Homo sapiens: one gene and its partners. The gene in region 2 interacts genetically with the main gene of each other region. Each region holds a gene or a part of one and is shown on either strand. Other genes may lie near its edges.

The links.
Region 1: changes in ZMAT5 (region 2) and EMG1 together harm fitness less than expected from each alone (positive genetic interaction), as found in Homo sapiens cells (one large-scale study listed by BioGRID).
Region 3: changes in ZMAT5 (region 2) and GNL3L together harm fitness more than expected from each alone (negative genetic interaction), as found in Homo sapiens cells (one large-scale study listed by BioGRID).
Region 4: changes in ZMAT5 (region 2) and BOD1L1 together harm fitness more than expected from each alone (negative genetic interaction), as found in Homo sapiens cells (one large-scale study listed by BioGRID).

What each region holds. Positions count from the first base shown.
Region 1 is NC_000012.12:6,977,175-6,980,436, forward strand, and holds the end of EMG1 (ribosomal RNA small subunit methyltransferase NEP1), read left to right. Parts: coding exon of another isoform or gene 1-88; 3' UTR 89-192; coding exon of another isoform or gene 193-351; 3' UTR 352-423; coding exon of another isoform or gene 424-571; 3' UTR 572-1,166; coding exon of another isoform or gene 1,167-1,333; 3' UTR 1,334-1,428; coding exon of another isoform or gene 1,429-1,515; 3' UTR 1,516-2,296; coding exon of another isoform or gene 2,297-2,405; 3' UTR 2,406-2,762; downstream 2,763-3,262. Other genes in the region: LPCAT3 (lysophospholipid acyltransferase 5), read right to left, coding at 1-88, 193-351, 424-571, 1,167-1,333, 1,429-1,515, 2,297-2,405. UniProt on the Homo sapiens protein: S-adenosyl-L-methionine-dependent pseudouridine N(1)-methyltransferase that methylates pseudouridine at position 1248 (Psi1248) in 18S rRNA.
Region 2 is NC_000022.11:29,732,218-29,739,860, reverse strand, and holds part of ZMAT5 (zinc finger matrin-type protein 5), read left to right. Parts: intron 1-1,419; coding exon 1,420-1,531; intron 1,532-7,643.
Region 3 is NC_000023.11:54,543,605-54,551,457, forward strand, and holds part of GNL3L (guanine nucleotide-binding protein-like 3-like protein), read left to right. Parts: intron 1-618; coding exon 619-722; intron 723-4,624; coding exon 4,625-4,769; intron 4,770-7,358; coding exon 7,359-7,446; intron 7,447-7,853.
Region 4 is NC_000004.12:13,602,425-13,610,791, forward strand, and holds part of BOD1L1 (biorientation of chromosomes in cell division protein 1-like 1), read right to left. Parts: intron 6,983-8,367; coding exon 6,871-6,982; intron 6,245-6,870; coding exon 6,106-6,244; intron 4,766-6,105; coding exon 4,693-4,765; intron 2,661-4,692; coding exon 1-2,660. UniProt on the Homo sapiens protein: Component of the fork protection machinery required to protect stalled/damaged replication forks from uncontrolled DNA2-dependent resection.

The DNA of each region.
Region 1 (3,262 bases), on a different chromosome or scaffold from region 2:
TTGGCACCATTGCTTTGTGAATATAAGGCAATATGAATAGTAGGCTCAGGAAGAAGATGTGGCCAAGGAAATAGATGGATTTATACACCTGTGGAGAGAGAGGCCACTAAGGTAGACAGGCCTGGAGTGTCCTTTGCAACCTTTGAGGTTGCAGTGAGTCCCTCCCAGTCTCACAAGCAGGCCTTCACTTGCCTTAAGCCATTTGTCCCACGTGAAGAGGCAGAAGGCAGTCATGGAGTAACCCATGAAGAGCCAGTGGATGGTCTGTTGCACCAAATAGTAGAAGGGCTGGAGGACAGTAATGGCGGCCAGCTTGCTCAGGGTGGGGCTCTCTTGAATGAGCCTGGCAGCCTGGGGAGGGAGGAGGAGCTCATCAGCATCTTGTCCCTTATATTCCCCTTCACCCCCACCCTGGAGGCCTACCTGTCTTTCCACAATAACAATGAGGAATTCCATCTGGAAGCAGACCAGGTATCCTGAGTGCAGGCCGTGCCAGAGGGCCAGGAATAGCAACGAGAGACCCTGAGAGAGTTCTTTATTTCCAAGGAACTTGAGTCGTTTGAAGATGTAGCTGGAGAAAAGGGTGGGTGGGGCGACCCTCAAACTGACTGGTCCTTGCATCCCGCCACCTGCCTCTGGGTCCTCACCCTGAGGATTGGATTGGAGTGCTGGTGGGTTCCCACGTGTAGCCCCCAGAGGGTACAGGAGGCAGTGCTGACTGATTACTTTTAGAGATGGAAAGCAGACCCAAGGCGGAGCTGGAGACCGTGTGCGCACGAGCCACTTGGTTCAGCAGCAGTGACTGAGGCTGATGCTGAGATCAGTGGTGAACCAGACACTCTACTCAAGCTGCCCACACTCTAGTGGTGGGGACAAACAAGTAAAGCTGTTGATAAACAGGGCAGTGGAGGACATAAGTCCATTGGCAGAGCTGGAGTAACACCCAGGTCTTAACGCACTTTTATATCTTGCCTTTTTTTCAAATATGACAGTAATGGTTTTTTTGGGAGGGGGGTATAGGTGGGGGTCAAAGTCAGTGTGAGCGACAGGGGGTTCTGCCCAGATGGGAAAGACGCATAGGGGTGACATGGTACACCCCTGCCCTCCAATCTGGGAAGACAGTGGAAGGAAGGAACCAGGGTCCAGGCTCCCCACCAGCAGCTCACCGGGCCACCCAGGCGTTGGTGTTGATGTTGAATGAGGCAATGGTGCCAGTGAAGCGGGGGTTTGTTTCAAAGAGCCACACCTTCATGTTGGCACAGGCATCCCACTTTGCCTTGCCCTTTTCTTCAAAGCCATTGAAGCCCAGGCCCGTCAAAATGCATACTCCTTCCTGAGAGGGAATAGCTCAGTTAGGGCTCTTGCCACTCCCCATACTGGCCCCCATGGCTTGTCTAAATAGGACCTTGTTTCAACTTTTCTACTTACTGTGACCAGCCAACAGGTGACATATTTGTACAGCACAAACTTGCCCCAGATCAGCATGTACATGCAGCGGAACCAGAAGGGGTGGTTCTTGAGGGAAGAAAGCACAGTGCATTAGGGATATCACATGACTAGGCAGTTTCTCTCAGCACTCTTCCTTTTCACACTTGTGGCTGGCTACTTCATACCTGCCTGAGTCCTGCTGCCAGATGCCCTCAATAGTCTGGCCTGATTGCCTTCACAATAGGCAGAGAGGAATAAGCAGAGGGCCTGGAGAATATTCATTCGCCTTTCCCTTGGAGAGCCTCAAGGGCAGCACTGTATTTAACTTCTCTACTGTTTGCCTTCGTTGGCAAAGTGTTTGGAATGAGCATTTGGAATGTTAAGTACAGAGGGGCCCATATTGGATTTTAATTTAAGGAGAGAAACCTGCCCAGAATTACTGAACTGTTTTCAAGCCTTTCAGCTGGGCAGGAGCAAAAGCCAGCACTTCCCCCCTTCCCTTGGTTTCTGAATTCCCTAGAAGTGCCCAAATGTATCAGTCAAGAGAAGAAAATAGGATGGAGAATCAGAAGCTGCTGTGCTCTGAGGGGTCACGTGGATGTGATAAGGCAAGCTAGGAGCGGCTCCTAGAGAAGGCAACGGGTGCTAAATGTGCACCTGGCACAGCCCTGTGCCCGCGAAGGTTGTTCAGTGCTGGCTGATGAACATGTCCCAGCACGGCTGGCATTGACAACTCACAGATCTAGAGCAAAACCAACATGCACTTGTAGATGATATTTCCTACTTCTCTGCTATCTGTAGGGATCCTTGCCTGTCCATTTTCTAGCTCTGGTGCAGTCATGCTGCTGCTGCTTTAGTAGACACTCACGTCATAGTCTTCAGTGAGGAGATAGTCTTCTGTGATGTGGGGGCTGAGCAGTGTGTAGCCCACTAGGTAGAAAAGGCCCAGACTCAGGCGCTTGAGAGCAGGAATGATGCTGGAAAGGAACGAGTGAAGTTCCTGGTCACAGAGAGCAGAGACTATTCCCTTCACCCTCTGACCTTCAGTTATGGAGAGGAGTGTTTAGGGGTGTGGTTGTCTACCTGGAATGGGATGAGAAGCTCTGCTGCCCAAAGTGTTTCCTGTTTCAGGGAAAGATTTCTATGGCTGGCTATGAGGAATGGGGACTGCAAACCTCTTAAGAGTTGTAGGAAAGTCAGGGCAGCAGACAGTGGACCAGTCTTGTGTTTACCCCTCAGGGATGCTACTGATCTCAAGGTCTTGCCAGGTCTCACAATCTCCATTGGGACTGAAAACCCAGTGGAGGTAAGATAATAAAAATAACCACTTTGAATCTGCTCCTTCATTTCTTGGTTGAATTGATGCTGAAACACAGGATGGACAAGTTCTCAGTGAAGGAATTCTTCTGGCAATTAAACTTTTTTTTTTTTTTTTTTTTTACCATTTTAATTTTTATTTTCTAGAGTCAGGGCCTTGCTCTGCCACTCCGGCTAGAGTACAGAGGCATAGTCATTGCTCGCTGTGGCCTTGAACTCCTGGGCTCAAGCGATCCCCTTGCCTTGGCCACCTGAGTAGCTGGGACTATAGGCATGTACCACCTTGCCTGGATAATTTTTTTTTGTAGAGATGGGGTCTCACTATGTTGCCCAGGCTGGTCTTGAACTCCTGGCCTCCAGTGATCCTCCTGCCTTGGCCTCCCAGAGCGTTGGCATTACAGGCATGAGCCACTGTGCCCTCCTGCATTTCCTACTGATAAATATTTTTGAGACAGGATTTTGCTATGTTGCCCAGAATGGAGTGCAGTGGTGTGATCAAAGCTCACTGCAGCCTTGA
Region 2 (7,643 bases):
CCGTGCCCTGCCCTGGGAGCCAGTGGTGCTGTGGCTGCAGCCCCGGGACCAACACAGGGTTTCCAGGAGCATTTTTCCCCAGGGTGGAAGCAAGGCCTTGTGGGACTGGCCAGCAAGTCCTGGCAGCAGCGGCAGCTGCAGCTCTTCCCTGGCTATGGGCTCTCAGAGGACGGCTGGCCCATGGTGGGACGAGCACGGGGCAGTGGGCCTGGAACTGGAGACGATGCCGAGCGGGGACAGGAATGGGGAGAGGCCCAGGGAGGCTGGGAACAGAGTCCCAGCTGGCAGCTCTGACAGTCCCAGCTCTGCCACGTCCTCTGTAACCTTGGTACGTGGCTTAACCTCTTGGAGGCTGTGTCCTGTCGAATGTGATGTCTCTAAGGATGAAGCAAGATGACACCTGTACAGCCCAGGGCCCGGCCCCAAGTGAGCTCCAGAGACCAGGGCCCGGCCCCGAGTGAGCTCCAGAGACCGAGGCCTGGCCCCGAGTGAGCTCCAGAGACTGGGGCCTGGCTCTGAGTGAGTGCTAGTCAAGTGTATGATTACTTTCCTCTGGCCCAAGACTCCATCCCAGATGACTTGGCGACTCTGACCCCATCAAACGCTCACACCCAGCTTGTATAAATTCCATTCGTTGATTGGTTTTAATTCGTTGAGCAACAGGTTTTGTTGGACAGCTTATGAGAATAAAAACCAGGGAAGCTGAGGCTCATTACCCTGCCCAGGGTCAAAGACCCGGCAGGTGACAGAGCTGAGATGTGACCCCATTCGACTGCCCTCACTGCCTCCCTGCACCTCAGATTCAGACCCCTCCTTAGGGCCAGGCTCTCTCTCTCTTTTTTTTTTTTTGAGATGGAGTTTCACTCTTGCCGCCCAGGTTGGAGTGCAGTGGTGCGATCTTAGCTCACTGCAGCCTCCACCTCCTAGGTTCAAGCGATTCTCCTGCCTCAGTCTCCCAAGTAGCTGGGATTACAGGCACCCACCACCACACATGGCTAATTTTTTTTATTTTTATTTTTAGTAGAGGCAGGGTTTCTCCATGTTGGCCAGGCTGGTTTCAAACTCCTGGACTCAGGTGATCCGCCCGCCTTGGCATCCCAAAGTGCTGGGATTACAGACGTGAGCCACCACGCCTGGCCAGGGCCAGGTTCTCTACAAGCACTGTCCTGTTTCCAGCTCCCCAAGAGCTTGGAGGCAGCCGGGGTTGTCTCTATTTGATGGGAAAACAGAGCGAGGCCGAGTGCTGGGCCCTCGTGCACAGATGGCCTGGAGAAGCAGTCCAGGTGCATCCTCCTGGAAGGTTGCTGCAACTTCCCAGGCTTGCTCAGGGCCTACCAGTTGCTTCTGCTTTGTGAGAGGGTAGGGTTCTGGCAGGCAGGAGTGTACCCCTCACTTGCCTTTGTCTCCCTGTCCCCACAGAGGAGAGGCGAGCCAGGGAGTGGCTACTAGATGCTCCTGAGCTCCCCGAGGGCCATCTGGAGGACTGGCTGGAGAAGAGAGCCAAGCGGCTGAGCTCAGCCCCAAGTAGCAGGTACAGGTCCCCAGGGTTCCCTCCCGCTGTGCCCCCTGGGGGCAAAACCCCAGCCCGCCTTCCCCTTCCTGAGGCTCAGGAATCTCCATGAACTGCCCAGGCCCAGGGGCCGAATAAAGTTGCCTACACATAGCTCCCCGAGGAGCCCTTGGGGCCCCAGGCCCTGGCCAGAGGCTGAGGGGTGTTTGAAAGAGCCTCTCCCAAAGCTGGGCCCCTGTTGGAGTCTGTGCTGGCTGGAGGGGAGGCAGGCGGCAGAGCTGATTTGGCTGCAAGTCACAAGTCCGTTGCCAGAGGGAGGGGCCTGGGCTGTGGTCACCATGCACTGCTGCCCACTGTTGCCTCTAGGGCCTTGCAGAAGGGAAAACAGGGAGGGTGCGACTTGCCCGAGGGCACACAGACGGGAAAATGTAGAGCCGGGATTGCACAGGCGTGATGACGAGGTCCTGGTCCCACTGCCTTTCTAAGGAAGGGGGTCTGGAGATGGCCCCAGCCCTCGGGACGCTCACAAGTAGAAGGGGAGCTGCTGGATCGGGGTCCTTGGGGTGTGTGCTTCGTGATGTCCCTGGTCCTCCTCTTTGAGGGAAGGGCCTCGGGTGATATTCACATCAGAACGGGGCACAGGGCAGGCAGGGGCAGACAAAGGCTGGCGGCCAAAACCGAAGCCTGAGCTCCTGGGCTCTTCCTCCAGCAGTTGAAGGAGGGAGGGGAGGAAAAGGGGATAAAGCTGCGCCCAGGAGCCGCATGCGACTTTGAACACGTTTTCCCATCCCGACTACCTTGCTTTCCCCATCTTGCAACGGGCTTCAGACCTGACTACCTCTGTGGTGTGGCTTCACAAAATGGTGGCCTGGCCTGGGCCAAGGGGACCTGGCCAGATAGTCTGGGGGAAGAGGCCTTCCCTTGGAGCTCTGCCAGGAGGTGAAGGCCAAACTTCTTGCCTTCTCTGTGCTCCAGTGAAAGAGACTATGAGGGTGTTTTTTTTCTTTCTTTCTTTCTTTTTTTGTGATGGAGTCTTGCTGTATTGCCCAGGCTGGAGTGCAGTGGTGTGATCTCAGCTCACTGCAACCTCTGCCTCTGGGTTCAAGCGATTCTTCTGCCTCAGCTTCCCAAGTAGCTGGGATTACAGGCACCCACCATCATACCTGGCTGATTTTTGTATTTTTGTAGAGATGGGGTTTTACCATGTTGGCCAGCCTGGTCTTGAACTCCCGACTTCAGGTGATCCGCCTGCCTCGGCCTCCCAAAGTGCAACGTGTTGGGATTACAGGCATGAGCCACCACACTCGGCTTTTTTTTTTTTTTTTGAGACGGATTCTTGCTCTACCGCCCAGGCTGGAGTACAGTGGTGCAATTGTCTCATTGCAAACTCCACCTCTTGGGGTTCACGCCATTCTCCTGCCTCAGCCTCCTGAGTAGCTGGGACTACAGGCACCCGCCACCACGCCCGGCTAATTTTTTTGTGTGTTTTTAGTGGAGACGGGGTTTCACCATGTTACCCAGGATGGTCTCAATCTCCTGCCCTCCTGATCCACCCGCCTCAGCCTCCCAAAGTGCTGGGATTACAGGTGTCAGCCACCGCGCCCAGCCTTTTTTTTTTTTTTTTTTTTTTTGAGATGGAGTCTCGCTCTGTCACCCAGGCTGAAGTGCAGTGGCACGATCTCGGCTCACTGCAACCTCCGCCTCCTGGGTTCAAACATTTCTCATGCTGCAGCCTCCCAAGTAGCTGGGATTACAGGCATGCACCACCATGCCCGGCTAATTTTTGTATTTTTAGTAGAGACAGAGTTTCGCTGTGCTGGCCAGGCTGGTCTCGAACTCCTGACCTCAGGTGATTCACCTGCCTCAGCCTCCCAGAGTGCTGGGATTACAGGCATGAGCCACCGCACCCAGCCAGTAAAGGTGTTTTAAAACTAACTTTGTCTTTTACCTTTATTTTAAATCCGTGTTCAGTTTTTGTCTCCCCACCTTAAAAGTATATGTGGTACAGACATGACTCAAACGTTGGAGTGTGACATTCTCTCCTCCTGGTCCTGTCTGAAGGGTCCCGTCTAAAGGGGTTCTATCCTGTCTTTGTGCATGTGAGCACCTCCTTTGGGACTGGTTGCTGTCCAGGGATCCACGTCCTACACCCCAGACTCCTTCAGCCCGTGTGCAAAAGGCTTGAGCTGGTTGGAGGCTGCCCAGAAAGCTCTGGCCCCTGCACCGCTACTTGGACAGGATCTCCTATGAGTCCCATCCTCACTCTGCCACCTGCTAACCGAGTTGCACCAGCCACTCGCCTCCCTGCTCTGGGTCCATGGTGTCCTCCGCTGGGAGCGAGTCACAGAGGCCCGGCTGTCTCTTGGGGCTGTGACAAGGTTTCATGGAGTCCCTGTGGCTGAACTGGAGTGAGCACCAATGGGTGGGGTAGAGATGGGGTGCCCCAGAGTCCTTGCCTGGGTTCCAGACAGATGCATCCCTGTGCTGAAACAAGGCGCTATGAATTTGAGACTTGGGGGACTAGGGTACCAGATGGGGAAACTGAGGCTGAATGACTGGCTCCTAGTCACAGGTTGAAGTGGTGACCATATGAGAATTGAGTTTGGTGCTTACAGTGTTCCCAGTGTTTGGGGGCATTCAGGGAGATTGGCACCCCCATTTTGCATCTGAGGAATCTTAACCTCTCCAGGAGGTGGGGCCATCCTGATCACACGTGCCCTGCTGCCCTTAGCCCTCACTTGAGAGAGAGCTAGGTCCCTGCTCTGTGTCTAGACCCCAGGCTGCCTCTGACACCAAGTTCAGGGCTGGCCCAAGGCTCTGTGTGGCTGTGGGTAGTGGCAGTGGCAGCAGCAGGCTGCCCTGATGGCAGTGACTGTTTTGGGAATGATTGTTCTGCAACTGGAGCCCACCTTGGCTGTAGGGGGTCTGAGCCCTGTGCTCTGGGCCATTGTCCCTCTGGCCACCCAGCCTGGCCCCTTCCAGGGGATCTGCCACCTGCCTTCCTCCTGCCTCCTGAGGGCTTGGGGCCAAAATGAATTGTTCTCTAGGCAGAGCAGGCCTGTCCAGCCTTGAGAAAAAGGGGCTGTGGGAAGGGAGGTGACCGTTTATTCCTGCTTTTGCCATTGCTGCCTTGGGCGTCCATAACTGTCTCCGGGCAGGCTGGTCTCCTGAAGCCTAGCAGCCTTTCCCTCCGTCCTGGGCTTTGAGCCCCTCCCCTGCATCCACACCCCCTACCCTGCTTAATGGGAGGGGGTGGATTCCAGCCCCAGCCCCCGCAAGGCTACCTCACTTTCTTCCTGGCTCCCTCTCCAGCCTGGAGGCAGTGCTGCAGCAACAATGTTCTTCCTCCACCCTGGCTCTCCTGGGCACCCCAGCGGCCCCTCCCTGGTCTCCCACCTTCCCTCTGCTCCCGCGGGGGATCCTCCACACAGCAGCCCTGATGCACCCTGGCCCTGGCGCTTCCCCACATCCTCCACCTCTGGCCGCACAGCCCCATTTGCAGGGCTGGGGCTGGGGCTGGGGCGGGGGACCCTCCCTGATGCCTCCGCAGCCAGTCGGATCTCACCTTCTCACCTCTTGCCTCTGGCCTGACTGGTGGTCCCACTGGACACTCGGCAGCAGCTTAGATGAGGCATCATTTGTGATTTTGGAGCACCTTGCGCATGCTATTTTCTTGCCTGAAACTGCCTCCCACCTCTCTGCCTGGCAGAGTCAGACTTGTCCTGGAAGCTCTAGCTGAGACATCACCCCTCCCAGCCCCCGCTTCTCCTGCATGGCCTGGGCAGACTTGGGGGTGCCCAGGACAGGTTTACTGCATGAATGAGCATTTAGGCTGCTGTTCGGGCGTTCCCCAGGTGTTAGTGCTGCGAGCCTTTTGTGGGGCCTGGTCTGGAAGCCTGGGGGACCCCCTCTTCCTCTCAGGGTATCTGCTTCCTCCCCCAGAGTACAAGGCACAGAGAGCTGCCCACCCCACCTCGGGGAACCGAGACCTGCGGGCTCCAACCTCCGCTGGCTGAGCTGAGCCTCTCCAGTGAGCCAGGCCAGCCCTCCTTGTAAACATGGGGAAGTGGGGGTCCATGAAGCCCCAGCCTGGTGGCATAGCTCTTATCCCCCTCCGCAGACTGACCCTGAGGGATCTGTCAAGAGCAGCGGCGGCCTCAGACACACAGACTAATCCCTCGGCAAGGCCAGGCCTGGCCCTGCTGCCCATTGTTGGCTCTTCAGTTTGCGACTCTATCCCTCTTAATCTCTCCTTTGCACCCCTCTCTGGGCGGGCGCTGCCATCCTGGCCCATCCTCCTCCTCGACTCTGTTTCCTCTGATTAGGACCGCGGCTGGGAAAATGCAAGAGAGTGGCTCCTGTCCTCACGCACAGGACAAACAGGTCACCAGAGAAGCTACGAGCAGAGTTGTGCCAGACACGCACCTCAATGTCCCCAAGGCTTTGGCTCACGTGTCTGGGGCCCTGGCAGTGTGCCAGTGTGTGTGAGCAGGCACTGGGTATGCCTGTCTACTGGCGGGACCTCAGGGCAGGCAGGGGCACGGGGCTGAGACTTGGACCCAGGAGGTCCCAGGTTCCCAGGAATCTGCCCCATTTTCTAGAGGAAGGGCCTGAGGCTCAGGGGAAGGGGCTCCCCAGGATCACACCCTCCCTGGGGATCCCCACTGTCCCTGTGGCCCTGCAGGGAGCCCAGGCTTGGCTGGCAGCTAGGGCACTCCCTTCCAGCAACTGCGGAGCCTCCCCGCCTTCTCTGCGGCTGGTGGAGTTTATGAAATCTCCCCAGTGCCATAAATCATGTCAAGAGCTGCCTTCTGCACTTTCTAGCAGGCAGTGAGCCATGAAGCAGGGGATGTCCCTGTCCTCTCACACCTGGGGGTCCTGGAGGCTGCACCCAGAGCTCCCCGGAGTCCTTGACTCTGCATGGCAGGTCTGGTCCAGAGAGGGGCAGGTTGGGTGGGTGCAGCAGGGGAAACTCCCAGGGCTCCTGACCCCGGCTCTCCACCTCCCCCTCGGAGGTCAGAGGCCTCTCCAAACCCCTCTCCGCAGGCCCAAGCCCTTCTCTCTCTGCAGAGGGCTGGCCACTGGGCCCCTGAGCCTGCCAGGAGCTGCCAGGGCCTCACCTTGCCTGAAGGCTGGATGTTGGGGTGTGGGAGTGTGCCAGAGCAGAGGGAGCTGAAGTGGGAAGGCCGTGTCTGCAGCCGATGTGGGGCTGGTATTCCAGGCCCTCAGGCCTCATCCCGAGGGTGTCACTTGGTCACGTGACTGACTCCTTGCACCTCAGTTTCCTCATCTATAAAATGGGGTTCGCCTGAGGATTCTTAAGGTTTCTCTAGGTCATGGTGTGTGGCCCAGAATAGCACCTGGTCAGTAAGATCTTTCAGCATTGCTGTTTGTTCCACAATCACTGGGTGGCCTCCTGGCACCAGGCCTGGCCCTGCGCCTTGGGGTACAAATACACCTTACCCCTATCCCCTGGTCTACATCCTCTGGGGACTCCAGTCCTAAGTGGAAGACAGATGAGCTCCTGCCTGAATTTTGGCGGCGGCTGCATGGCACTCTCTGCTGTGGATGTGGATGTGCATGTGTACTTTTTTTTTTTTTTTTTTTTTTTGAGAAGGAGTCTCGCTCTGTCGCCCAGGCTGGAGTGCAGTGGCGCGATCTCGGCTCACTGCAAGCTCCACCTCCTTAGTCCACGTCATTCTCCTGCCTCAGCCTCCCAAGTAGCTGGGACTACAGGTGCCCCCCACCACACCCGGCTAATTTTTTTTTGTACTTTTAGTAGAGACGGGGTTTCACCATGTTAGCCAGGATGGTCTCGATCTCCTGATCTCGTGATCCACCCGCCTTGGCCTCCCAAAGCGCTGGGATTACAGGCGTGAGTCACTGCGCCCGGCCAATGTGCACGTGTACTTAATCAGTCCCCCACAGCTGGACATGAAGGCTACTTCCATTGTCTCACGGCTATTGCTGTAACTCAATGGCTGCCCACAACCCTGCTATTTCCTTGGGCTCAGTTCCTAGAGGTGAGGTTGCTGGTTCAAAGGGTCTGCATGTTTTTGAGGCTCTGCCTTCCAGAAAGGTCTTGTATAGGCAGCTGGGGTGATGGGAGTTCAAAGTGCTCAAAGGTTCAAAG
Region 3 (7,853 bases), on a different chromosome or scaffold from region 2:
CTCCCTCAACTCAAAGACTGGGGCAGAGGAGCACATGGGCTCAGGAGTCACTCATGTCTAGGGTTCAGCCTCCCACCTGTCCTGATTCTTTTCTCTGAGACACTGGATAAGTCATGCCACCTCCAAGAGCTCCTGTTTCTCTAGCTGTAAAATGGGCCATGGGTATCCCAACCTCACAGATTTGTTGTAAGAATTAATGATAAAATGCTTGGTACATGGTGGTCAGTACTTCACACATGATAGCCATTCTTTTTAGGGTTATCTTTGTCATTTGGCCCAACCTAGAATGATCCAGAGAGGGGATAGGAAACACAATATTTGGGGGGTCTCTGATGCTCCTGGCGCTGTTTTGGAAAGAGAACATTTGGGACCAGATAGCTAGTTTGTCCATTTTCCCTGAGGGAACAGAGGCCCCTTCAGGGAGGGCTAACGCATCCCGTAGACCAGACTATCCTTTCTAACTCCAACCTGCGGACTGGATGGGAATGACAGGGCCAGTTGAGAGACCTGTTGATGGTAGGTGGGCCTAGCTTTGGGTACGGGTGGAGGTGTCTTTGGAGGGAACCATGGAGGTGTTGTTCTGCTTACCAGCCCCATCTGTTCCTATATTTACCCCAGACCTGGTCCCCAAGGAGGTTGTGGAGAAATGGCTGGATTACCTTCGGAATGAGTTGCCAACCGTGGCTTTCAAGGCCAGTACCCAGCATCAGGTCAAAAACCTGGTAAGCCTGGGGCTAGGGTCATCTAGCCGCTTTCAGGGTAGTTTGGGGCCAGAGCTGGGAGGGTCGTGACTTGGACTGGGACCTCCAGCCCTTTAGTAATTGAACTGGGCCTTCAACTTTGAGCTTTTTGCTCCACCGAGTGACTTTTTTTTTTTTTTTTGAGATGGAGTTTCACTCTTATTGCCCAGGTTGGAATGCAATGGTGTGATCTCGGCTTACTGCAACCTCCACCTCCTGGGTTCAAATGATTCTCCTGCCTCAGCCTCCAAAGTAGCTGGGATTACATGCACGCGTCACCATGCCCTGCTAATTTTTGTAATTTTTTTATTTTTAGTAGAGATGGGTTTTGCCATGTTGACCAGGCTGGTCTCGAACTCCTGACTTCAGGTGATCCACCCACCTCGGCCTCCCAATGTGCTGGGATTATAGGCATAAGCCAACATGCCTGGCCAGTGACTTCTTAATATTAGTTTCACTTGACTTCTTCCTGTATTATCACTCTTCAGGAAGCATTTCTTTTTTTTCAGTTGTAAGGATAAAACATAATGTCTATAGGGAATTTGTAAAATACAGTTAACTACTTGTTTGTTTGTTTATTTATTTATTTGAGACAGAGTCTCACTCTGTTGCCCAGGCTGGAGTGCAATGGCATGATCTTGGCTTACTGCAACCGCTGCCCACCAAGTTCAAGCAATTCTCCTGCCTCAGCCTCCCAAGTAGCTGGGACTACAGGCATGTGCCACCATGCCTGGCTAATTTTTGTATTTTTAGTAGACACGGGGTTTCGCCGTGTTGGCCGGGCTGGTCTCAAGCTCCTGACCTCGGGTGATCCACCCGCCTTGGCCTCCCAAAGTGCTGGGATTACAGGCGTGAGCCACCACTCCCGGTCTAACTTTATTTTTTATTTTTTGAGACAGAGTCTCACTTTGTCACCCAGGCTAGAGTGCAGTGGCACCATCTCGGCTCACTGCAATCTCTGCTTCCTGGGTTCAAGTGATTCTTGTGCCTCAGCCTCTAGAGTAGCCAGGATTGTGGCTAAGTTTTGTGTTTTTTTTTTTTAGTAGAGATAGGGTTTCACCATGTTGGCCAGGCTGGTCTCGAACTCCTGACCTCAGGTGATCTACCAGCCTTGGCTTCCCAAAATGCTAGGATTATAGCTGTGAGCCACTGTGCACAACCAACTACTTGTTAACTTTAAAAAATACGTATACCTCCAATCATTTTTCTCTTTGAAACAAATCACAGTTCTTCCCAATTATATCATTAATAGAGAAATATGTATGGTTTGTAAAATATTAATACAGAAACTGATTGTTTCTGGGAGAAAAATTGGATACTAAGGGACATTTTTTTTCAATTTTGCATTGGATGTTAAACTTATTTAAAAATAAAGTAGAAAAAATAAAATTAACTACAGATAAAGCTTAAATACCCTTTCACCAGTCTCCCTAATTCTAGTCTCCTTTATTCATGCCCAGAGGTAACTACCATTGACAGTTTGGTGTGCATTCTTCCAGACTTTATTTATTTTAGATACAGATATTTAGGGTCTCAATTGGTCATCCAGGCCTCAGTGCAGTGGCGTGATGATAGCTCATTGCAGCCTCAAACTGCTGGGCTCAAGCCATCCTCCTGCCTCAGCCTCCTGAGTACCTTGGACTATAAGTGCATGCCACCATGCCAGGCTAATTTTTATCTTTTTTATTTTTGTAGAGATGGGGGGAGGGTCTTGCTTTGGTGCCCAGGCTGGTCTTGAACTCCTGGCCTCAAGTGACCCTCCCATCTCAGCCTTCCAAAGTGCGGAGATTACAGGCGTAAGCCACTGCACTCGGCCTTCTTCCAAATGTTATTCTGTGCTTTGGATATACATAGAAGTGTATATATAAAGAGGGAATACTGTTTGGAAGTATTATGTATATCATTCTGTGGCTTAGTTTTTTTTTTCTCTTGGACATCTTTCTATAGAGATGTGCCTTTTCGAGGCTGAATACAATTAGTTTCCAGTTTTTTATCGTTATAACCTGGGCTTCCACAAATACCCTTGTACATGTCTCCTTGGCACATGGGCAAGTGTGTGTTTGTAGGTGAGGTAGAGAAAGGGAGTGGCTGGGTCATAGCCTTTCTGCATTTTACCTTTACCTAGACACTGATGAATCACCCTCCGTGATGGCTGTACCAATTTATACTCCCACCAGTGGGGTAGATGAATGTGTGAGAGGCCTCTTTTCCTACACCCTTGGCAACATTTGATAGCATTAAACTTTTAAACCTTTCAGAAACATGATACCTTATTTACATTTTCTTGGCCTTTTTAAAATTTAAATTTAAATTTTTGTTGAGATGGAGTTTCACTCTTGTTGCCCAGGCCGGAGTGGGATGGCACGATCTCGGCTCACTGCAACTTCTGCCTCCTGGGTTCAAGTGATTCTCCTCCCTCAGCCTCCCGAGTAGCTGGGATGACAGGCATGTGCTACCACGTCTGGCTAATTTTGTATTTTTAGTAGAGACAGGGTTTCACCATGTTGGTCAGGCTGGTCTTGAACTCCTGACCTCAAGTGATCCACCTGCTTTAGCTTCCCAAAGTACTGGGATTACAGGTTTGAGCCACCGTGCCCAGCTTCTTGGCCTTTTTGATGGCAAAAATAGAAGCCGCCTTTTCTTTCTTTTTTTTTTCTTTTTTTTTTTTTTGAGATGACGTCTCACTCTATCTCCCAGGCTGGGGTGCACTGGTGCAATCTTGGGTCACTGCAACCTCTGCCTCCCGGGTTCAAGTGATTCTTCTGCCCCAGCCTCCCGAGTAGCTGGGATTACAGGTGCGTGCCACCACACCCAGCTAATTTTTGTATTTTTAGTAGAGACGTGGTTTTGCCACGTTGGCCAGGCTGGTCTTAAACTCGTGACCTCAAGTGATCCGCCTGCCTTGGCCTCCCAAAGTGCTGGATTACAGGAATGAGCCACAGCACCCGGCCAGAAGCCACCTTTTCTAACAGCTGTATTTCATTTGTATTCCACTTTAAGGCTACAGCTTTTTAACCTGTTTCTTATTGATGGATATATAGGCTAATTCCAATTTTGTGATATTGGAAACAATGCTGTGGCTGGGCGTGGTGGCTCATGCCCGTAATCCCAGCACTTTGGGAGGCCAAGGTGGGCAGATTGCTTGATGCCAGGAGTTTGAGACCAGCCTGACCAACATGGCGAAACTCTGTCTTTACTAAAAATACAAAAGTTAGCCGGGTGTGGTGGTGCATGCCTGTAGTCCCAGCTACTTGGGATGTTGAGGCATGAGAATCGTTTGAACCCAGGAGGTGGAAGTTGCAGTGAGCCAAGGTTGTGCCACCACACTCCTGCCTGGGTGACAGAGTAAGACTCTGTCTCAAAGAAAAAAAGTAAGGGAAGAGGAGGGAGGGAATTCTGGGCAGAGGAAGTGGCATCAGGAGTAAAGGTTGGGATGGCTTTGTCCTGTGTGAGGAATTGAGGGAGGGTAGGCTGTGGGCCAGGCTCCCTCTCATCCCTGCGCAGGCAGGGAGGGTGGGCATCCCTGTTGTGCACACAGGGCACTGAGGCCTGGAGAAGGGAAGCAGGCTTTGCTGGACATAGGCCTGTGAGAAGTAGACCTGGAGCTCAAACCTGGCCTATTTAGAGCCAGGATGCCATCCTGCCACTGCCGAGGGAGGCAAGTGACATGTGTCGAAGCAGACGCAGGGGCAGAGGAGACTGGAGACACAAAGACAGTGGAGGGGAATGGGGAAATGACACGTGTTCAAGATCTGTGTGAGAAGCCTTCCGTTTCAGGCTGAGGAGCTCAGTGATCATAGGGAGGCCCTGAAAGTTGGAAATCTGGGCTCAGACCTCATCTGCCACCTGATGTCTCTTCTGTGATATTCAATTTTTTTTTCCAGAATCGTTGCAGTGTGCCAGTAGATCAGGCCTCTGAGTCACTGCTGAAAAGCAAAGCCTGCTTTGGAGCTGAAAACCTCATGAGGGTTCTGGGGAACTATTGCCGCCTTGGTGAAGTGCGCACCCACATTCGTGTGGGTGTTGTGGGTAAGACCTGCTGTGTGGTCATGGGGCTCAGGCTTCTTTCTTGAGCGGACACTTCGCTGGGGGAAAGGATCCTGGGAGCTTCATTGTCTTTTGCGGGGAGAGAGGAGTGGTTCAGGAGAAGGGTTTCGTGATTTGTAACTTGGATGGGTGGGCATCACTGCGTATTGAGTATTAGATTCATGGAGCAAATACAGGGTGCCAGGCTTGGACTTGGTACCATCTCATCCTATCAGAGCTATGGGAGGATGGGGTGACCGTCTACCTTTTACGGATGAGAATTCTGAGTGAGGCTCAGAGAAGGGCAAAGGGACTTTTGGAGCCCAGCCCTGTGCAAGACAAGGCAGAGCTGAGGATCAAAACCTGGGCCTTTCTGGAGCACAAGTTTCTGAGGGAGGGATGATGGGAATGGAGTAGGGAAATTGAGAGAGGCAGAGATAGATCACCAGAGAAAGAATGTGAAGCCACGTGAGAAAGACATTGGAGAGAGAGCTAGACACTGAGAAGGTATAGGTATGCATACCAGGATAGATACAGAAGAAGACACAGAGAACGCACTGGGAAGCCAGATGGCAGGATTGGTGGGGAATGGAAAGAGGAGACAGATTTACATGATGGAGGCATGTAAAGAGGGAGATACAATCAGAAACACCAAAAGGGACATAGAAACAGACATGCATACAGAGATCTGCCGAGGGAGACATAGGAAGGGTAGAGATAACCCATGTATGTAGAGAGGCAGACATGTTTTCTCAAAGAATGAGAGAGAAAAACATACTACAGGGATAGAGACAGATTCAGAGAGAGACATACATGGAAGCAGACTGGACAAGGCTGTAGATACAGAGGAACACATACACATAGCTCTTAAGTACACATACAGATCCACAAACACATACACAGACCCACGCTACAGACCCAGAGATCCAGAGGAGGCACATCTAGCGAGACAGAACCACAGTCAAAATGCATGTAGACCAAGCCCTTCCCACACACACCCACCCCAACGCTGCTCCCCCAACGCGCATAGAACCACAAGGAGGGCTGGATGTAGCAGCTCATTCATGCCTGTAGCCCCAGCACTTTGGGAGGCTGAGGCGCACAGATCACTTGAGGTCAGGAGTTTGAGACCAGCATGGCCAACATGGCGAAACCCCATGTCTACTAAAAATACAAAAATTAGATGTGTGTGGTGGCGGGCATTTGTAATCCCAGGTACTCGGGAGGCCGAGGCAGGAGAATCGCTTAAATCTGGGAGGTGGAGGTTACAGTGAGTTGAGGTTACAGTGAGTTGAGATCGTGCCACTGTTGAGATCCAGCCTGGGCAACAGAGCGAGACTCCGTCTCAAAAAAAAGAAGACACGCATGTGCCCACATACACTTTGACCCTCGAACATAATCACATACCTAGAGTTACAGAGGGACACAAATACCAGACATGTCACTATGAGGCAGGTATGTGTACCTGTACAGAGAGAAATAGAGACATACAGAGAGGAGGTTAAGGAGGCGCAGACAGGGAGAGAGTAGAAGAGACACCGTGAGACACATACAGAGAGGCATCCATGAAGTGACCAGCCCACAGAGATGAGGAGCATGGACAGAGGCTGACAGGAGTTGGCATGGAGGGAATTACAAATAGAGGCAGGATTGGTGGGGTGGAGAGAATCAGAGAGAAAAGAACAATGGCCAGAATGAGAGACAGACAAATTGGCAGAGAAAGAGGTGCTTAGATACAGAGACACAGAGAGAAACAAAGATAAGATAGAGAAAGAGACTGAGTGGGAGAGATACAAGAAAAGGAAAAAGTGGTGATACTGAGAATGGGAATGACCGAGAGAGAGAGAGAGAGAGAGAGAGAGAGATGTGTAGAGACTTCCATGCATGGTGATAATTTAGAATGAGAATGACCTAGAGAGAGGGAGGGGGGAGAGAGGTGTGCAGAGGCTTCATGCACGAGAGGTATACTTAGACATATACCTTTTTTTTCTTTAGGCAATCAGCTTTCTCGGGTTGAAACAAGCATATGCTTGAGACAATAGTACACACATGTAAATTGAGCACATACAGAAAGAGAACGGTGAGAATGAGGCCCAGTGAGGGGAAACACAAAGACATCCACAGGCTGAGAATGGCTGACAGATGCACAAACAGCAAAATACACACCTCAGGTAGACAGCTGCACAGAGAGACTGGCATCTGGAGATGACCTCCATCCCCATCCATGGAATGATACACCCAGACAGGTTGTTCTCTGTTTCTTAGACATTTCTCGATGTCCACCTTCTGTTGGATTGTGCCACTGAGGCCTTGCATTGAGGACCTCTGCCTGGCTGATTGTGAGTGGGAGGTTGGTGTCACGTCTAGAAAGAGGGACATACCTATCTAGCATGCTCACAAATGGAGGGGAGAGGTAGAAAGGCCCTGTAGGGGCTTTGTCAGGGCCTGGGGTGGGAAGGGAGGAGGTCAGGCTCAATTTTTTGGCTTCCCCATGGCCTGGTTACTACCCCTGGCTAGGCCTCCCTCACACAGGCTGGCCTGAGTGTTCCTGAGGGCCTCTTCTGCCCTGAGCCATCTGCTGCTATTTTGTAGGTCTTCCCAATGTTGGGAAGAGCAGCCTGATCAATAGCCTGAAGCGCAGCCGCGCATGCAGCGTGGGAGCTGTTCCTGGAATTACCAAGTAAGCACCTGCCTGCTCCTCCACTCCACAATTCCTTGACCCTACCATTTCCCCCCAACTCCCATGCCTTCAGCCCCTGTCCCTTTCCTTATCATGGACCATCCCCTGATGCTTTCCCCAGGCATGGGAGTCTCATAGCCCTCATTTTCCTGATACACCCTAGGTGTGGGCCAGGTCCCCACATGGGTGGTTCCCATTAGCGCCTTGAAGCTTCTGAATAACGATGCAAGATTGGGCTACAAATGGGAGCTCTGTTGACTGGATGAAGCAGCTGAGGCTTGGAGAGTCAAGCTTGCCCAAGATCCTGCAGCTCAGTCCCCAGTGGCAGAGGATAGATTAGAATCAGCCTCAAGTCTGTAGAGCCCCAGTCACCCCTCCTCCAACTCTACATCTCTCCACCTTCGTCT
Region 4 (8,367 bases), on a different chromosome or scaffold from region 2:
GGTGCAGAGCCACTTCCAGCACTGGTGTCTACCTCACTGTTTTCATTCCTTCTTTCAACATCAATTGATATGTCTTTTACTTTACCTGGGCTTCTTTTATGCTTAAGTTTGACAGTTTCAGCATATTTTTCTGTATTCAGGCCTACAACATGATCAACAGCAATGCCATCCTTCTTGCCATTCTCTACTGTTGCTTTAATTGTCTGCTTTAAATTGGGCTCTGCATTTAAGTCATTTTCTTTCTTGGCCATGTCCACTAAGCCACCTTCTTTGGTAATATTCTCATTTTCCACAATCACGCCCGTTAACTTACTTCCAAGAGGCATGATTACCTTTCCTTGTTTACCATCCAATAAAGTAGCCTGGTGAGCTTCTGGAATGTGTCTTTTGCTAGTGATGCTTGCTTTTGCTGGTGTATCTACTGTGAAACCTTCACCACCTTCTTTGCTGTCACTTGTCTTAAGGACTTCTGATTCCCTAACAGTCAGACTTTGGTTAGGGAGAGCAGAGTGATCCGCAGGGGAGGTGCTGGCTGTGCTACCTTCCAAAACAGTTCTTTTGTCAAACAGAGGAATTACATCTGGATCATACGATTCCCTCAGAGGCACAACAGTCACTGAACTTAAGGATGGTGAGGAGTCTAAATTTGTGGAATGTTCAAGAGTGGCATCTCCTTGAGCAACATGTTCTTCAGCAGCTGTGTTTTTCAAATTCTTCTGTACCCTATCATTTTCTGATGGGGCACTCAGTAACATTCTATGAACAGTTTCAGAATCTATATTCACTTCAGTAGTTCCTCTATGAATGGGTTCTTTCTCCCCAGGGTTCATTTTGGACACAGCACTTTGTATATGCATTTTCTTGGTCAAGGTGCTTCTATGATCGGCATGCTTTTCAGAATTACTATTAACTCCTGTTCCACGGCCTGGCTTATAAGCTGGAGCTGTTGCTTTTGAATCTGCTGTGCAAGTTCTCAATTCATCCTTTTGAACAGTGGCAGAAGTTTTTTGTTTCATATTTTCAGAGTCAATGTCTTGCTGAGAATTATTATTGCGGTTGTCTTGGGTTTTAGATACTTCAAACACATTTTCAACACCTGGCTCAGAATCAATTTCCATTGGCTCTTGTTCAGGGATCAATGTCATATCACCACTCTTTTTTGGTCTCTGAAGGGAGGAACCGCTGGGAGTGCTCAAAGTGTTTGCTGCTAATTTTTCTTCTCCTTTGGCCATTTCTTGTGACAAGCTTCCTCTCCGATTTTCGCACAACCTTCTACTTAATTTCTTTTCCATGAGTGAACTATTACCTCTGGCCTTTTCATGACTACTGTCAACTTCTTTACCATCCTTGTCATCTGATTTATTTTCGTCCTTCTTTTTTATGTCTTTACTACTATGCTTTAAGCTTCTGCTTTTGTGGCCATCTGACAACTTTCTCTCAAGCCTGGTGGAAGTGGAGTCTTTATCACTCTTATATTTCTCCTTTGCTAATGGTAACTTGGCTCTATGACTAGAATCCTTCTGTGTACTATGTGCTGAAGAAGAAGCAGTCTCTAATACAGGTTCAACACCAGTTTCTTCAAAAGGTTTGTCTTCAACTTTAGACTTACGCTGTTTTTCTGAGTCATTTTCTTCTGTGTTCTTCTCCTTGTCTGGTTTTGGAGTGGTTGCCTGTTTTGTGGCACCTTCTTGTAATTCTGTTTCTACAACTTTTACCTGTTTGCCTTGAGTTTTTGATTTAGACTTCAACACAAGTTTCTCTTCTAACAAGCTCTTTGTTCGTCGTTTCTCCTTGTGAACAACCTCTTCTGGTTTCAAATTACTATCCATGTTAGTGGAGTCCATATCACACTTATCTTCCGAATAACTTTCACTTCTTCTCTGTAATGTGATACCATGTTGCTTGGAACCCAGAGAATCTTTCTGAATTTTAGAATCACTTGACCTTCTTGATTTGTGCTCTGCCTTAGTTTTTTCAGCTGACAAGCGTCTCTCTTTTTTGTTGTTTTCTTTACGAACATTCTCATCTGTTTTTATAATATATTCAGAAACTGGCTTTCCATCTTTGCCTAATACTGATAATTTCCTTTCATTCCTATGTTTACTTTTTCGTTCGGTTTTATCATCTGAAGAAAGCTTTGTTTGTTGACTTTGCTTTTGAATATTTTCCTCTACTTTTAAACCTTTCTCAGAAGAGTGAAGCTCAGTCTCATCACCTGTTTTATGCATACAATCACCTTTATATTTATGTTTCACAGACAATTTGTCTTCCGATGGAGTTTTCTCTCTTTCAGGCTTCTCCTTGGAGGATTTCACCTCTTTCTTAAGTAGGCTTTTCAAATGTGGTGTTTCAGAATCATCTTTCTTTAGATGCTTTTCGTTTTTAAGTGTGCTTTTCTGTTTCTGGGGCTCTTCGGTGCAAATTTCTGAGCGTTCTACTTGCCTTTTTACATCTCTTGTGTCAGTCTCTTCCTGTACCCCCTCCATGATAACAGGGGTAGATGTCCGTCTTTTATGTTCTCTTTCTAATTTGGATTCATTTTTGTTTTCGTCAACTACATGCAAAGACTCTGAAAGTCTCCGGGCAGGTTTACTTGGTTCACTTTTTGCATGAACATGCTTCAGCTCCTTTGAAGAAGAAATTTTTTCCTTTTCACAATGCTGAAAGAAAACAAAGGTTAAAATATGAGAAATACCAAAATCAATTTTTAGATTAAAACATAACATTTGGGTGGATTTAATATGTTGAGTGCTGTCACATATGTAACATCTCACTTAATTCTTACAAACAGCCTGTGTAGGTGTCAAAAACTCACCTGATTTTAAAAAATAAGTATTATTAACTTGATTTTAAGAAGCTAAATTCTTCAAAGAACTAACAGGAGTTTGCAACAACCATATTTTACAATAAAAAAACTAATTCTAAACAATATGAACAATTTTATGAGATTATTTCTCATAGAGATTTATCACAAAATAAAGTTAAATACTTAAAAATATGCCATTAAAACATCAGGAAATTGTAGCTCAGCATGATTCTATAACTTGACACTCAGACCACAAGTAGGTGTGTTAGGAATGAGTTTAGATTATTTCATTCCGAGTCTAGTACTCCTTCCAGTATATCACAGGCACTGATTTGTCTATGAATTCTTCAATTCTGAATCACTAGAACTCACTAATGCCCAGTACTCAATAATAAATATGAGCTGAATAAATGACAGTCAAATGTCCTTTTCAGTCAAAAACATAATACATGAAGGCAATTTAAAATTGAAATATACTGAAATATAGATTTCCTATATTTTAATTTAAAAAGCTGAATTATGTATGGAAACCTCATGAATTTAGGCTACTTGTACAATATTCTACACATGAAGCTTCAAATGTACACAATAACGCACAGTAACCATATCATATATAACATATGTATATGTTTATGTATTCAAAAAAAGATACGGAGAGACAAGAGCATCTAAACCTTCCTTCTGGCCCTGTGGTTTGGCACTAAGTAGGCGATTAATATTAATGAGTGGAGGTTGACTAAATCCACTTCAATAATACTCACTGACTACTAGCTATAATTATTCTTATGCAAATAATGGGCCAAAGTTCAGACGGACCTTTGTGCCTCTAGGTCAGTTTAACACTTCATCTCCTTAAATGTCAACACAAAGATTAATGTACTTCTACTAATAACAGGGTCCAGGACATAACAAGACCTTATTAAATAGCTTAAAATAAAATTCCTCAAAGAACTAACAGGAGTTTGCATCAACTTCACAATAAAAAACTAATTCTAAGCAATGTGAATACTATTTTATGAGATAATTTCTTATAGAGAATTATCATAAAAGAAAGTTAAATATTTAAAAATATGTCATTAAGCCATCACTATATACTTCTAAATACGCCTTTAATTTCTGAGTAAATAAATTAAATTTATGTTTGCTGATGATGAACAAATAATCACTAACATTGCTTTTTCCCTCTGGAAATATTAAGATAGTTTAGCTACAGAACTACAGATAATGTGGTTTTTGTAAAAAAGAATTTTAAAACAGTGAAAGCAAAAGTTTGTCCCACGAAAATAATCCTGAAAGGGGGAAGAAAACATTGTACGTTACTTTTACTGTTTAAAATGATCAAATCTTGGAAACAACCTAAGCGCTAAAATATAAGGACATGCTTAAATAAATTATGGTATGTACATTATATGTAACACTAGACAATCATTAAATAATTAGGATGCCTAGAAGGTAACATGAAATGAGTAAAATGTTAAAAACAGTTTGCCAGATTACTTGTACTCTAAAAAATTATGTGGACCCGTGGATAAGGAATGAGAGGGAATAAAAAGGATAATTTGTTATAGTGGAGGGATTTTAGATTTTAATTTTAGCCTCCCTTTTTCTTTTTTTGTCATTACTGGCATTTTTGTTATTGCAATTATAAGAAATGGGAAAAGAGAAGAAGAGTAGCTATTACCTAGATAAACGACAAATATATAAATCAACTCAACAAAATGGGCAATTTGGGACATAACAAAATGGGGTTTCAAAAATGCTGAATGTAAGTTGACTTTTTATTTGACTTGAAAAAAGTCAAATTACATTCTAAGTTTTACTCCAAAGGAATAAACAGCCTATATCTAACAAAACAGCATTTGAAATGAGGTTTTATTAAGGCATACCTCACTTGTTTTAAGGGTTTCTTTGGAATCTTCTTCATATTGCTGTTTCTTTTTGGAGTTCTCTTCAACATTCCTAAGGGGGAAAGAGTCAAATATAAAGCATGAATCAAATACGAAAATTTTTCAGGAAGGTTGAAAACAATAAAAATCTTTCCTTTACTATAATTTTTATTTATCTTATTTTATTATTATTATTTTTTGAGGTGGAGTCTTGCTCTTGTTGCCCAGGCTGGAGTGCAATCACGCAATCTTGGCTTACTGCAATCTCCGCTCCTGAGTTCAAGTAATTCTCCTGCCTCAGCCTCCCAAGTAGCTGGGATTACAGGCATACGCCACAATGCCTGGCTAATTTTGTATTTTTAGTAGAGACAGGGTTTCACCATGTTGGTCAGGCTGGTCTCAAACTCCTGACCTCATGTGTTCCACCCGCCTCTGCCTCCCGAAGTGCTGGGATTAAAGGCGTGAGCCACCGCGCCCAGCTGTTTACTATAATTTATACACTTGATCGACAAATGCAGACTTGTTACATTTCAATTTAAATCCTATCAATTATTGGTCAACAAAGGAGAGCACAATCCCAAACATAGCATTAACTGTTCTTGGTGCTAAAGGAAAGTACAGCTGAAACAAAAATTCCTAATTTGTTGCTTAAAGATGAATGCTTTATGGGCTATAATTACACTTCAAAATTACTATCTTTTGAGTAAAGAGGGCAGTCTTATTTATTCAGATCAATAAGGATGAGAGGTAATAATAGTAAGAAATTTGAGAGCTTACTACTCTTACCAAGTTCTGCAAATTATCAAATCAGTTATCCTGAAGTCTGTGATAAATTTACATAAATGCAACTTGATGGAATAGCAAAATTGCAGCCCATGGCTCACATGACTTCATAGCTACCCTCAAGAGTCTCTTTAGCTTTCTAATTCTTAAAAAGTTAACGATGATAATGCAGGGTTAATAAGGAATCTGGCCCAGATTCTGGGTTGGGGGAGAATCATGGAATACTGGTAAAAATAACGGCATGGAAAGACTGGAAATAATAATTGAAAATAAGTGGTTACTGAACACCAACAAGAGGAATACCTCCAGGGAACTTCTAGAGGATTCATAAACTCTTAAAGTCTAGGGATAATTGTTAGCTTATGCATGTACATTTTTCAGGGGAGAGGGTCTAAAGCTCTCACCAAATTATCAAAAAGATCTGGGACGCCCAAAAAGATTAGGATACACTACTTAGAAATGTTATAGATATTAACATTTTGATACTAAATATGAAACCCTAAGGTCCTTCATAAACATGCAGTAACATACACAACCAAAGTACAACTCTTTACTGTCACTTCAATTCCTCTCTTCTGAAAGCACCCAGGGGAGTGTTATAAGGGAAACATGACCAGATAAAATATGTACCTTGAATCTTTTTTTCTCTTTTTGCTTAAGGCTACTTTTTTTTCTAAAACTTTCCGTTCTTTAAGGACTTCTTTAATTCTGGCGGCTTTAGGTTCCAAACTCTTTGTTGATGATTCTTCTAAGTCCACACTACTCCTGCCTAGAAAAGAAGCAATCAATAAAACGTATTTCAGAAAAGTTTTACAAACAATGTAATATTAATTTTTCATTAAGATTTTTCTAATCATTGTTAAAGCCAAAATGGCTTTAATATTCTTAAGTTGTGCTGGAATAGATATAATATTTTGGATGAAGAAGTCTTATCTCTCTTATTTCAAATGATCACATAAGTGTGTGTATGTGTGATTTCATATATTACATAGGATTAGTGCCCAGAGGGAATACAATTTTGTTCAACACAATATTACAGGGAAATGTTTGACATTTTAGTTAACATAAGCATAGATTAATTTCATTAATCACCAGCAAGGGTTGATAACTCATGTGTTAACAATCTACTTTCCAGTGATTCAATCATTACAGAAAAATATACTGCTAACAAATGAGTTGCATAAGCTGGTTTCTGGTAAAATGTTTAATTTAGATTTAGCAATTTAATAAAAAAGAAAAATGATGAAACACATGAGATTAAAACGTAAGGAAATCTTCCACATTTGAGACTAGATCATTTTATTTTATATTCATGTCTCATAAGTAATATAAGAGTACCCAGAAAATAATGAAATATATGAGATAGTTTAAAATATTAAAAGTTGACATCTATACCTTGACCCTTGGTTTTTGAAGACTTTGTCTTTTCTGCTTTCTGTTTTCGTTTTTCTTCAAGTTTTTCTCTATTGATTTGCCTTCTTAAAAGCCTCTCTTCTTTTTCTTTGGCCTAAAACCACAAAATACCCTAACAGATTATTAGGCAAAGGCAAAAACACACTGAAAAATTGTATTTTTTTTAAAGTTTTAGTTTACCCTTCAGATGTTCTTACAAATTAACGGGCTCTGAAAAAATGCACATACACTACATATATATACACACATTTATCTCTGTGTGTATACATACATATGTATGTGTATGTTTCAATCTAGAAGCTACCAGAATAGAAGAAACAGATGTGAAAATTTGCCATTACTCTTTAAGAATGCCATTAAAGAAAGGGAAAGGTATAATTTTGGGGAAAAGTGATTAAATAAGCTGGTTGTTTCAATTAAAATGATAGCTGTGAAAATATCTATGAACATCAAGTATATATAGGTAGGTGTTTATAACTTTTCAACTGTTCTTATAGAAAACAGTTGAAATAAAAATTCAAGTGATAGGCTAGTTCTACAACATATATGACTTGCTGGTTATATGCTTGGGACCCAAGGGACTCAGGACTTGCAGGTCTTTTACAGCAGAAAGAATTCACAGTCATTGTGCTATTCCTACTATCTCTTTCTGGCTCAGAGTGCCAAAAATCCTAAGCAGGTGCATAACTTCTAACCAAGTAATGTTTTCAAAAGATAAGCCTGAAGGGAAGGCTAATCACTACTAGCATTTTGGGGTAGTTTCTTCAAATCATTTTCCTATGTGACAATATTTCCTGATTCTGAACTTTTCATATTTTACAACTTTTCATATTTTAATGTTTCTGAAATTGTAAGCTATCTTAAAACCAATATACATATGTAACAATAAGGTAGTAATTTTCTTTAAAAAGCTGTTATTAATTCAGTGGTACATTTTATAATTGGAAATATTTTTGAATCCAAGAAATAGGTAAATAGCATTTCCATATCAATAGTATGTTAATAGCTGCATACTGTATTTTTGCAGGACTGGATCTACACTTGATTTAAACATTTCCATACTGTGAAGCACTCAGGTTGTTACCAGTTTCACTACTACAGGTTGAGCATCCCTCATCTGAAAATCTTAACTCTTTGAGCACTGACATGCTGTCACAAGTGGAAAGTTCCACACCTGACTTCATGTGACAGGTGGCAGTCAAAATGCAGTCAAAACTTTGTTTCATGCACCAAATTATGAAAAACATTGTATCGAATACTCTTCAGGCTATGTGCATATACATATAAGAAACACAAAGGAATTTCATGTTTAGACTTGCATTCCATCCCTAAGATTTGTCACTATGTATATGCGAATATTCCAAATTGTGAAAAATTCCAAAATTTGAAACACCTCTGGTCCCACCCATTTCGGATAAGGGATATTCACTTGTATTAGTAATGATGACACAAACATCTCTGTCACATGTTTACATCTAC